Regions from separate parts of the Homo sapiens genome. Here region 1 is linked to region 2. The links come from fine-mapping of genetic effects on gene expression. A gene starts in region 2. The other region holds a variant in brackets. All regions are shown on one strand. Distances are from middle to middle.

Region 1 (5,374 bases), 23 kb before region 2:
TTTCTCCATGTTGGGCAGGCTTGTCTTGAACTCTTGGCCTCAACTGATCCATCCACCTTGGCCTCCCAAAATGCTGGGATGACAGGTGTGAGCCACAGCGCCCGGTCCCAATCCCTCTTTTATTCACATCTTTTCCCACATATCCCCTCCACAGAGCCGTTATCTGACCATCCCAACTCGACAACAGCACCTCACCCCATCACTGTCTATGGCATCACTGTGCTTCATCAATATTTTCAAAGCCCTGATCACTGACATCATGCTATACATACTGTGCATTTGCTGTCTGTTTCTTCCCGCTTAGAATGCACACATCAAGAGGTTATAGAGGGCCAGATGCAGTGTCTCATGCCTGTAATCTCAGCACTTTGGGAGCCCAAGGCAGGAGGATCGCTTGAGGCCAAGAGTTCAAGACTAGCCTGGACAAAATAGCAAGGCCCCATCTCTACTCGATAGATAGATAGATAGATAGATAGATAGATAGATAGATAGATAGATAGATAGATAAATAGACAGATACACACACACACACACACACACACACACACACATTTATATATATATATATATATATATATAATTAGCCGGGGATGGTGGCATGTGCCTGTAGTCCCAGCAGCTCAAGAGACTGAGGGGGGAGGATCATGGCGCCACTGCACTCTAGGCAACAGAGCGAGGCTGAGACCCTGTCTCTAATGAAAAAGAAGTATGGTGTCTTTTGAGGAAAACACAGGAGGCTCCCATGTTGCTTGCGCCTTCTGCACGAAATGCTGGCAGGGCAGGCTTGCCTCTTGTTGAGAGTAGAAGTGAGAGCCCAGCTGACATTCTAGGTTCCTTCCAAGATCCAAAGTCTCAGAAAAATGCAATTGTAGAGATACAAAAAAAGTTCAGACATCATCTCATGCAAGACTTCTTCTTAAGCTGGGATCCTTGAGTCCCCAAAGATTTCTAAACTTCCTAAAGTTGTATGTGAAATGTCATCGACAGACATATGCACCATTTTCTGTGGAAAGAATCCACAGCTTTCATTACAGTCTCAAAGGAGCTTTATTTCTCAAAAAGTTAAAATCCTCTTGGCATCATCCTTCATTATAGATGAAGAAGCAACTTCTGGAAGGTCAAATAGCTGGTTAGTGGCAGAGTTTGAAGCAGAATTCACATGTGCTGATTTCTAAGCGGTCTCTTGCCTCCACCCCGCTCCCTCACAATGTTCGCTTATTGAAAGGAAGCATCCTTCCCTGGCACTGCCAGACTGGCATCCTGGACCACTGGGCTCCCAGAGTAGCGACCTCATTGTGTGTCTGCCTGAGCCTCGGGCAAGACCCGCCATGCATGACTTTCCCCTTCCTAACAATTTAATTATTCACGAACTTGCGTGTGGTGAGAACATCAGACAGGGATGACGGCGCTAATGTGCTCTGAGCCTCCTTCAAATGGCATTTCATACTAGAGCAGTGCACCCGCGGCATCTTCACAGACCCTCCCTCACCAGATGCCCTCAGCAGATAAAGAACTCATTTTCCTTTCCCTGCTGCTAATGGCTCCAATTTTCTTGTGATTTTCTGTAATGGTAAATGCCAACAAAACATCACCCCACCACATGTTCCTACTGGCTATTCTTTCAACATCATGAATTCCAAACCAGCTCTGCTGGAATGAAAAAGAATGAAAAAATAATATTCACAAGTCATTTGGGAGGAGTGCAGGGAGGGAGGGAAGGCAAAGAAATGAAGGTCATGGGCATATTTTAACCTCAATCAGAAGCAAGTGATTTGTCCTCTATTCTTAAGAAATTTGCTATATAGGCATACCTAGGAGATACTGTGGATTTGGTTCCAGACTGTGCAATAAAGCAAATATTGCAGTAAAGCCAATCACACAAATTTTTCGGTTCCCCTGTGCCTATAAAAGTTATGTTTACACTACAGTCAATTAAGTGTGTAATAGCATTATGTCTAAAAAATGTACAGACCTTAATTTGAAAATATTTTATTGCTAAAAAAATGCATATGATCATCTGAGCCTTCAAGGACTCTTAATTTTTTGGCTGGTGAAGGGTCTTGCTTTGATATTGATAGCAGCTCATGGATCAGGGTGGCAGTTGCTGAAGACTGGGGCAGCTGTGGCAATTTCTTAAAATAAGACAGCAATTAAGTTTGCCAGATCAATTGATA[C/A]TTCCTTTCATGAAATATTTCTCTATAGCATGTGATGCTATTTGATAGCATTTCATAGTATTTCACCCACAGTATAACTTCTTTCAAATTTGGAGTCAATCCTCTCAAACCTTTCCACTGCTTTGTCAACAAGTTTATGGATTATTCTAAATCCTTGGTTGTCAACAATGTTCACAGCATCTTCACCAAGATAGAGTCCATCTCAAGAAACCACTTTCTTTGCTCATTCATAAAAAGTAACTCTTCTCTGCTCAAGTTTTATCAAGAGATTGCAGCAATTCTCACATCTTCAGGCTCCACTTCTAATTCTAGTGCTCTTGCTATTTCCACAACATCTGCAGGGACATCCTTCACTGAAGTTTTGAACCCCTCAAAGTCATCCATGAGAATTGGAATCAATTTCTTCCACACTCCTACTAATATTGATATTTTGACCTCCTCCCATGAAACATCAATATTCTTAGTGGCATTTAGAATGGGGAATCCTTTCCAGAAGGTTTTTAATGTACTACACCTAGAACCATCAGCGTAATCACTATTTATGGCAGCCACCATTTCATGAAATGTATTCTTTTAAATAATCAGACTTGAAAGTCAAAATTATCCCTTGATCCATGGGCTGCAGTATTCATGTTGTGTCAGCAGGCATGAAAACATTAATCTCCTTGTCCATCTCCATCTAAGCTCTTGGGTGACCTGGTGCATTGTCAATGGGCAGTAATATTTTGAATCAAGGAATCTTCTTTTTCTCAGCTGTAGGTCTCAACAGTAGGCTTAAAATAGTCAGTAAACCATGCTGTCAACAGATGTACTGTCATCCAGACTTTGCTGTTCCATTTATAGAGCACAGGCAGAGTAGATTTAGCATAATTGTTAAGGGCCCTCAGATTTTTCAGAATGGTGAAAGAGCACTGGTTTCAATTTAAAGTCACCAGCTGCATTAGCCCCTAACAAGAGGGTCAGCCTATCCTTTGATGCCCGTCACTGACTTCTCCTCTCTAGCTATGAAAGTACTAGACAGCATCTTCTTACAATAGAAGGCTATTTCATCTACACTTAAAATATGTTGTTAGTGTAGCCACTTTCATCAATATCTTCACTAGATCTTCTGGATAACTTGCCACAGCTTCTATATCAGCACTTGCTGCCTCACCTTGCACTTCTATGCTATGGCAATGGCTTCTTTTATTAAACTTCTTTCATCAAACTTCATGAACCATTGCTTTATTGATCGACCATGAATCTTATGGTCGATCAATAAAGTGATGTGCTATATAGAAGGAGGTATGTCTGCATTCATAGAAAGCTCTGCAAAGTACCCTGAGTTGCCACATAAACTTCTTCAGTGATGCCACGGTATTGCAAGGAACAGAGACTCACTCAAATTGCCTCAGAAAAGGGATGTTTTAGACCTGGACTTGGAAAGCTGCTAAGAACAGGGGCCACTCTAGGGCTGTAGGGTCTCTCCACATCTGCTCCCCTCTCTCTATCAATCAGCTTTTTCAGTTTCCTTGTGGTTTCCATTCACAACATTGGCTTCCACATGGCTTCAGGTTGCCACCAACTCAACTCCCAAACGACATCCTTTTAGCTTTTGCCCCTGTGGCAAAACATATTGGTATTTCCTCATTCAAATTCCCAAGAGAAGGAACCTGATTGAGTACTTACTTCTTTGCGTCAAACCATATGTCATTGTCCAGGCTACGGAATGGCCTCTAGGTAGTGTGTCCATCCAGGGACAATCAGTGATGGCCACAGGAATCTTAGATGGTGTAAAACGAGGCTACCTAGGCCTTCCCTGGGTCTTCTATCCAGGCTGTGGGCAGGCAGGTACTGTAACTATTTGTCATGTAGGAACTAGCCCAGGTTTTTCACAGAATACTGGAGCAAACTTGTACTAGTTTGGAAGGGCCAACTGTTACATTTTCAGGAATTTTCAGGAATTCTGTGAGCTATCTCTTAATCCACTGCTGGTCTGAAATTGGCCACTGTGGGAGTATTTACACCACAGATATTGGTGAATGCTACAAACTCAAGTTTTTTCCTCCCACTCTACAGAGCTAGTTTACCAGCACACTATTGCAGCATGAATGGTTAAAGAGGAAGAAAAAAAATCAAGGTAAACAAGTCTCCCCATAATCTGACAAAATCTATATCATTTCCCTCTTTTCCACTTTACCCACCCTTTGCTTCAGCAAGAATGGACAACTTCCTCATTATCCACTTGCCACAAATAACTGCGTTAGGGCCAGGGCTCACGCTGTGCCAGGTCCCCAGCCTTCCCAAACCTGATGTCCATCTCTATAAAGTTCAACTACTTCCCTGAAGCTTCCTCAACTCCCTCAATTAGAATAATCTCTGCTTCTCTAAACTCCAATAACCCCAACTGGACTTTTTTTGCAACTTTTTTCATGTTCAGCCTTCCTTTCCCTGGAGTTATTTATGGCTTTATACTTGGGGTCTTTTAATTCATTATAAACTTCCCACAAACAGAATCTATGTCCACTTCTCTTAAGTGTTAGGAGAAGTATCAATTAAGTGTGCAATGGCATTATCTCTGAGTATTCCAAGTGCTAAGTGCATACCTCCTACTCAGATACCTGGTGAATCGGTGAAGATGAACACAGCATTTATTTGCACAAGTCTTCAGTAACCCATGTCTCTCTCCCCTTCCCACACCTACAATTCTAGACCTGCAAACTCATGAGTTCACCAGCTGATTTGGGCCCTGACAACTGAATCAGCAACAGCAGGATTTTCAAGGCCAGAAGGCTGCTAAAGGCATGTATCTGATGTGCATGTGAATTACTTTCACTAGATTCAAATCCCTGTAAAAGAGGAGGGAAAAATCTAGGATTAAACTACAGAGATTGAACTTTGATCTGGCAACAGTGGACTCGTATTTCAAATAACACGCAACTCCCTGTGTCTCAGTCAGCTTAGGCTGCCATAACAAAATACCACACACCATGTGGCTTAAATAACAGAAATGTGTTTTCTAACAGCTCTGGGGGCTGGAAGTCCAAGATCAAGTTACCATCATGGTCAGTTTCCGGTGAGGGCTCTCTTCCCGGCTTATAGGTGGCCACCCTCTCATTGTATCCTCACATAGCATAGAGAGAGAAAGAGAAAGACAGAAAGAGAGAGACAGAGGGAGAGAGAGTGAGAGACAGCAAGAGCGAGAGAGAGGGAGAGCGCTC
Region 2 (5,374 bases):
TCAGCCTCCTCAGTAGCTAGAACCACAGGCACAGGCGACCATGCCCGGCTAAATTTTTTTCGTATTTATTGTAAAGACCCGTTTGCCATGTTGCTATGCTAGTTTTGAACTCCTGGGCTCAAGCAATCCTCCTGCCTCTGCCACCCAAATTGTTGGGATTACAGACGTGAGCCATCGCACCTGGCCCAAATATTTTTCTTGACTGATAAGTGACACAGTAAACTGACTCCAGAACATAAAAACAAAATATTAAAAACAATTATACTTGCTCCTAGGACTATGGCAATAAAAACCACATTTTTGAAACATGTTTGCATTAATTACCCTCAACTGAATAGTTTTGAAAAGAGCTTTTAATCCTGATAAAATTAGAGTTGATAACATTTCTGTAGTGATTGGGCATTGTAAATATGCTTTCATCTAGGGGCCAGGTGAGGTGGCTCATGACTGTAATCCCAACACTTTGGGAGGCCGAGGCAGGCGGATCACCTGAGGTCAGGAGTTTGAGACCAGCCTGGCCCAGATGGCGAAACCTGGTTTCTACTAAAAATACAAAAATTAGTCAGGTGTAGTGATGCAAGCCCGTAATCCCAGCTACTCGGGGAGGGGGGCTGAGACAGGAGAATTGCTGGAACCTAGAGGTGGAGCTTGCAGTGAGCCGAGATTGCGCCACTGCACTCCGGCCTGGGCGACAGAGTGAGACTCCCTCGTCAGTCCGTCTCAAAAACAAACAAACCAAAAAAAAAAAAAAAAAGAGCCCTGAGGCAGAAGCAACATCTCTACCCATTTCTGAGATGCAGCTAAGGGAGAGACTAAGATTCTAAAAGCAACTTAAGAGCAAAAAAGAAAATGTCTTTTGAATTGAGGGAAAACAAAAAATAATAAATATATAAAGGATCACAACCTAAGAATAATATAGTAAATATGAGACTGTTAAAAAACAAAACAAACAACAACAAAAAACCCTGACTCCTGGCTACAGAGTTGAAAAGCCCCTAGACACGTTGAGTAGCTCTTAATTGAGACTGCACTTCATTAACCAGTGAGGTGAGGAAAAACAGGACCTCAGTAAGGGAGTAAAGTCAAAGACTAAATTACAAACAGGCCAAATGAATGGATCTGAGAGGAAGTGATAAAATTCGCAACACACTCAGCCGTGTTTATTGTAGGGAATCACCCCAGGTCTAACTGCCATTGTAATCACCCCGTTCAGGGCAGAAGTCTTCCCACAGGCCCTCAATAACTTCAATCCTTGATAAAAAGCCAAAGGAGCCTGACTTTCCACCTGGGTCAAAATCCCCGCACATCTATTGTTTCGGAGCCAAAGCACCACCACCAGCAACCCCTGCGCACAACCCGGGGCTCTCCAGCACCGCTGTTCTGAATGCCAAGTGCCCAGCACGGGGTCTGGCACAGTTTCCTTAATAAAATGTCCTCTTCTCGTCTCCAGGATGAAACTCAGGATCCGGAAGGCAGCCTTACACCCTCTCCAGACAGGCTCCGTTAGGGGATGAGTGCGCACAAACAGCCCCAGGGGCCAGCCACCCCCTTCCCGTGCCACAACTTCCTGTCCCTTCCATCACTTCCACGCCACGACTCTAGTTTCCATCCAGCTCACAACTGTCATCAAGATCCCAGTCTCTGGAGGAAAGGGGGCAGGGCGGCTTTCCACCCTCAACTCCTCACTTAAGGGGCGTCTGAGAAGAACCTACGAAAGCGGGGGGCAGAAAGCACTGGGACAATGAGCACCAGTCCATGTGCCGACCCGGGCTGGTCACCTACTCCCAGGTGAAACCCACGCTGGGCGCACCGGGGCGAGCCACAGAGCTGCGGCCCCAAAAGAGCAGCAGGCGCGCCCCCCTCGCGTTGACATTTCCCTGGTGTGAAGTGCCGGAGATTGGGATGCAAGAGCGGGATTACGGTCCCGAAGCTCAGCTGCACTTGGAAGCACTCGGAGTCCCCAAACCCTGGGCGACTTCCCCATCGGCGCTCCCTGGAGAGGACTCCTACCGTCCCCGGCTCCCAGAGCTGCGCAGCCGGGCCGAGCCCCCGGCCAGGGTCCTCCGCCGGGCTCTGCGCAAACCTGGCAGGGCCGCTGTCCGCGAACTTGGCCGCGTGGGTCGGGCCGGGACAAGGTGGGGCGCGCACTCACCAACCCCGTACTTCTGCCTCTTGGTCGGGATCCAGCGGGCCATGGCGGCGACCTCGCCCCGCGGCGGCGGCGACTAAGGCTGCTACAGCTCCTCGGGCTCCGGCCGCCGCCGCCCCGCGCTCCTGCGTGCCCCAGACGCTTCCGCCATGTTCCGCCAAACTTCGCTGGACTCCGCGGGCCGCCTCCTCGCCGCGCCGCCCGCGCCCGTGCCCGTGCCCGCGCCGCCCGCGGTCACCTGCTGGGCCGGGCTGCAGCGCAGCAGTGCGCGCCCCTCCTGGCGCCGCCCCAGTCCCTCCCGCCGGCCGCACCCTCCGCCCGCCGGGGCCGCCTCCGAGCCGCGGGCGCCCGGCCTCTCCCGCCCGCGCCGCTCTCTGCGCTCTGCCGGGCGGGGGCCGACTGCGGCTCCGCCTCGCGCGCTTCCCTGGAGCGGCTTCCTGGGCCGGCGGGACTTTGACGCTGGCGGCACTTTGCCTTTCTCCCGCCCTCCCCACCCGGCTGATACCCCGGAGGCTGGGTCCCGGGGGTCCGGCTCCCGACAGAGGGCTGCGCTGGAGGAGCCGGGCACGCCCAGGCCGGGCGGCCGGTGGGCGAGGGATGCGGGCTGCGCTCCCACGGCGCGCGCCGGACACTTGGGGAGCGGAAACGGATCAGCGAGAGCGGCTTCTTGCTCGGGGCACCTCCGGTGCCTGGCACTAAGCGGGCGCGCAATAAATATTTGTTGAATGAATGAGCAGTTGACTTCTGCCTTCACCCCCTGGAGCTTGAACCCGCGCCGCGAGCGGGAGAAGCCGGACTCAGGGCAGACTGAATCTCCCGGGGCCACCGCTTAGAGCCTGGAAAGCAGAACTTTTATCACCGGAGAGCTGGTGCAAGGGAGGTGGGCTCCTCAGAAGTATCAGACCGTTTGCTAGGGGATCCTCTGCAGGGAAATTGTTTAGAAAGCCCTAATTTGGAAGTCCTGTATCCCCAAACTCCGGGGACCCCCCAACCTTAAGCTGAAGAAACTTAGACCCTCATGCCCAGACCTCCCTTTCCCAACCAGCCAGCAGCCCAGAGAGCATTCCCGTGGAGAAAGGGCCAAGGCGCATCCCCGTCTTTTCTCCGTCAACGACTGCCTTTTCTTGACGAAGATCCCAAAGGGGCTGCGCATTTGAACCGCCTTGGGCTCCAGGTGGCGCCCTCTCTGGAGCTCCCCTCTTGGAATTCATTTCTTCCTGGAGAGACTTGGAGAATGAAGATCCAGGGGTTTCTCCCTACCTTGTACCGAGAAGTAACATTGCAAGTAGAGTAAATGACCAGCTTAATTACGTTCACCTTCGAAGAAGATTCCTCTAGAGAGAAATTATATCCTCCTTGCAGCCTGTGAAGGTTTTCATGCGTTTTAGGAATATAAAAGAAAGGAAGACAAACATGTAGTAAAGATAGTAAAGACAGGTAGTTGGCCAGGCGTGGTGGCTCATGCCTGTAATCTCAGCACTTTGGGAGGCCGAGGCGGGTGGATCACCTGAGGTCACGAGTTCCAGACCAGCCTGGCCAACATGGTGAAACCCCTTCTCTACTAAAATACAAAAGTTAGCCAGACGTGCTGGTGTGCTCATGTAATCCCAGCTACCCAGGAGGCTGAGGCAGGAGAATCGCTGGAACCCGGGAGGCAGAGGCTATAAGTGAGCCGAGATCGCGCCACTGCACTCCAGCCTGGGCAACAGGGCAAAACTCCGTCTAAAAAAAAAAAAAAAAAAAAAAGACAGTAAAGATAGATAGGCAAACAAGGTAACAAGATAGTAAAGTTTCATTGGAGAATTAGTGCATTTTAACTTTGGTGGTTTTTTACCAAACGAGGTCTGAAATTTTTTTTAAGTCCTATTCACGGTGGGTAACTACTAGAGCTGGCTTTTTTTTTCTCCATCAACCAATAGGTATTTATTCACAATGTTTAACAATAATTTAAGAAATTCCTCTGTCACTTTAGACTTGACATCCAGAAAGAATTCCACCATCTTCCCTAAAATAATTTATCTTCCTCCATTAGTATATCATGATTCTAATTTCCCAGGTTAGGTAATTTCTTCTTCCTTCTTCACACACATATTAAATGCCTACACGTTAAGTGCCAGGCATCACTCTAAGAATGAGGGTGCAGCGGTGAATACAGTAGAATGTGTCCCTTCACAGAGCTTCTAGTCTAGACGGGGAGAGTAAGACAGTAAAGAAATGTACACCAAACGAGAGTAAACATTAGAGAAAAATCCAAAGCAGGGAGGATAGGGCGTGTAGGGTGCTGCTGTTTTTATGGAGTGGTCTGGGAATGCAGCTCTGCTAAGCTGAGGTTGAGGTGTAGACCTGAAGGAAGTGAAGATTCCGGGAGAAAGTATTCTGGAAAAGAGGAACAGCAAAGGCAAAGGACACCAAGCGTGTTTGGCAGGTTCCCAGGTCACCCAGAGATCCTAGGTAATGAGAGCTGAGTAACAGGTGAGAGGAAACTTGGTCTAAGAGGCAGAGGAATGCCAGATAGAGCAGAACCCTGGCAGGCATATGGACTTTATATATTACTACTACAAGCGAGGTTTGGAGGGCTTTGAGCCAACCTGGAACATATTGAACTTGCCTGCTGTGGTATGAATCCATTGTAAAGGGGCAAGGGAGGCCCACATGGATGGATGTTGGGGGCTATTTCAGTCATTCAGGCAAGACATGAAGGTAGTTGGGTCCAGGAGGATAAGGATGGAGGTGAAAAAGATGTTGGGTTCTTGACATACGTGAAAATAGAGCCTGGCCAGATGTGGTGGCTCACACCTGTAATCCCAGCATTTTGGGAGGCTGAGGTGGGAGGATTGCTTAAGGTCAGGAGTTCAAAATCAGCCTGGACAACATAGTGAGACCCTCCTCTACTATATATATATCCTGGGCATGGTGGCTGTGCCTGTGGCCCTATCTACTCAGGAGACTGAGGTGGGAGGATTGCTTGAGCCCAGGAGGTCGAGGCTAGCAGTGAGCTATGATTGCATCACAGCATGAAAAAGAACCAAGAGGAGGGCCACATGAACGGCAGGGGGATCTACTACTGTGAGGCTTCAATCTTTTTTGGAAAGTTTTCCCCCAGAAAGAGATATGCTTGTATTTTTCTTTTTTTTTTTAAAGAGCCCTACCCGTATCGTACACCCTTCAGGCCCCACACACCTTGGTTCTTGTCCCTGCATGTGAGATACAAGCTGGGTCAAGAAT

The links. PIP is the estimated chance that this variant, and not a neighbour inherited with it, causes the effect. A credible set is the group of variants that fine-mapping cannot tell apart.
Region 1: its variant is the best candidate, but not a certain one, in a credible set for the expression of DOCK5 in whole blood (TOPMed, PIP 0.74).

The regions. Positions count from the first base shown.
Region 1 is chr8:25,205,214-25,210,587 of GRCh38, reverse strand. The region is part of intron 1 of DOCK5 (dedicator of cytokinesis 5); the gene reads right to left. Among named protein-coding and RNA genes, the nearest start is that of DOCK5, 23 kb to the right of the region's middle. The variant C/A (reference allele first, on the strand shown) is at 2,175.
Region 2 is chr8:25,181,730-25,187,103 of GRCh38, reverse strand. It overlaps DOCK5 (dedicator of cytokinesis 5), which reads right to left and starts at 2,415. Exons shown (of 52, transcript NM_024940.8): 1 at 2,153-2,415. The coding sequence starts at 2,195. LOC124901912 (a long non-coding RNA gene) reads left to right here and starts at 2,727. Exons shown (of 2, transcript XR_007060861.1): 1 at 2,727-5,374. RefSeq lists silencers at 2,118-2,167, 2,338-2,507, 2,518-2,597.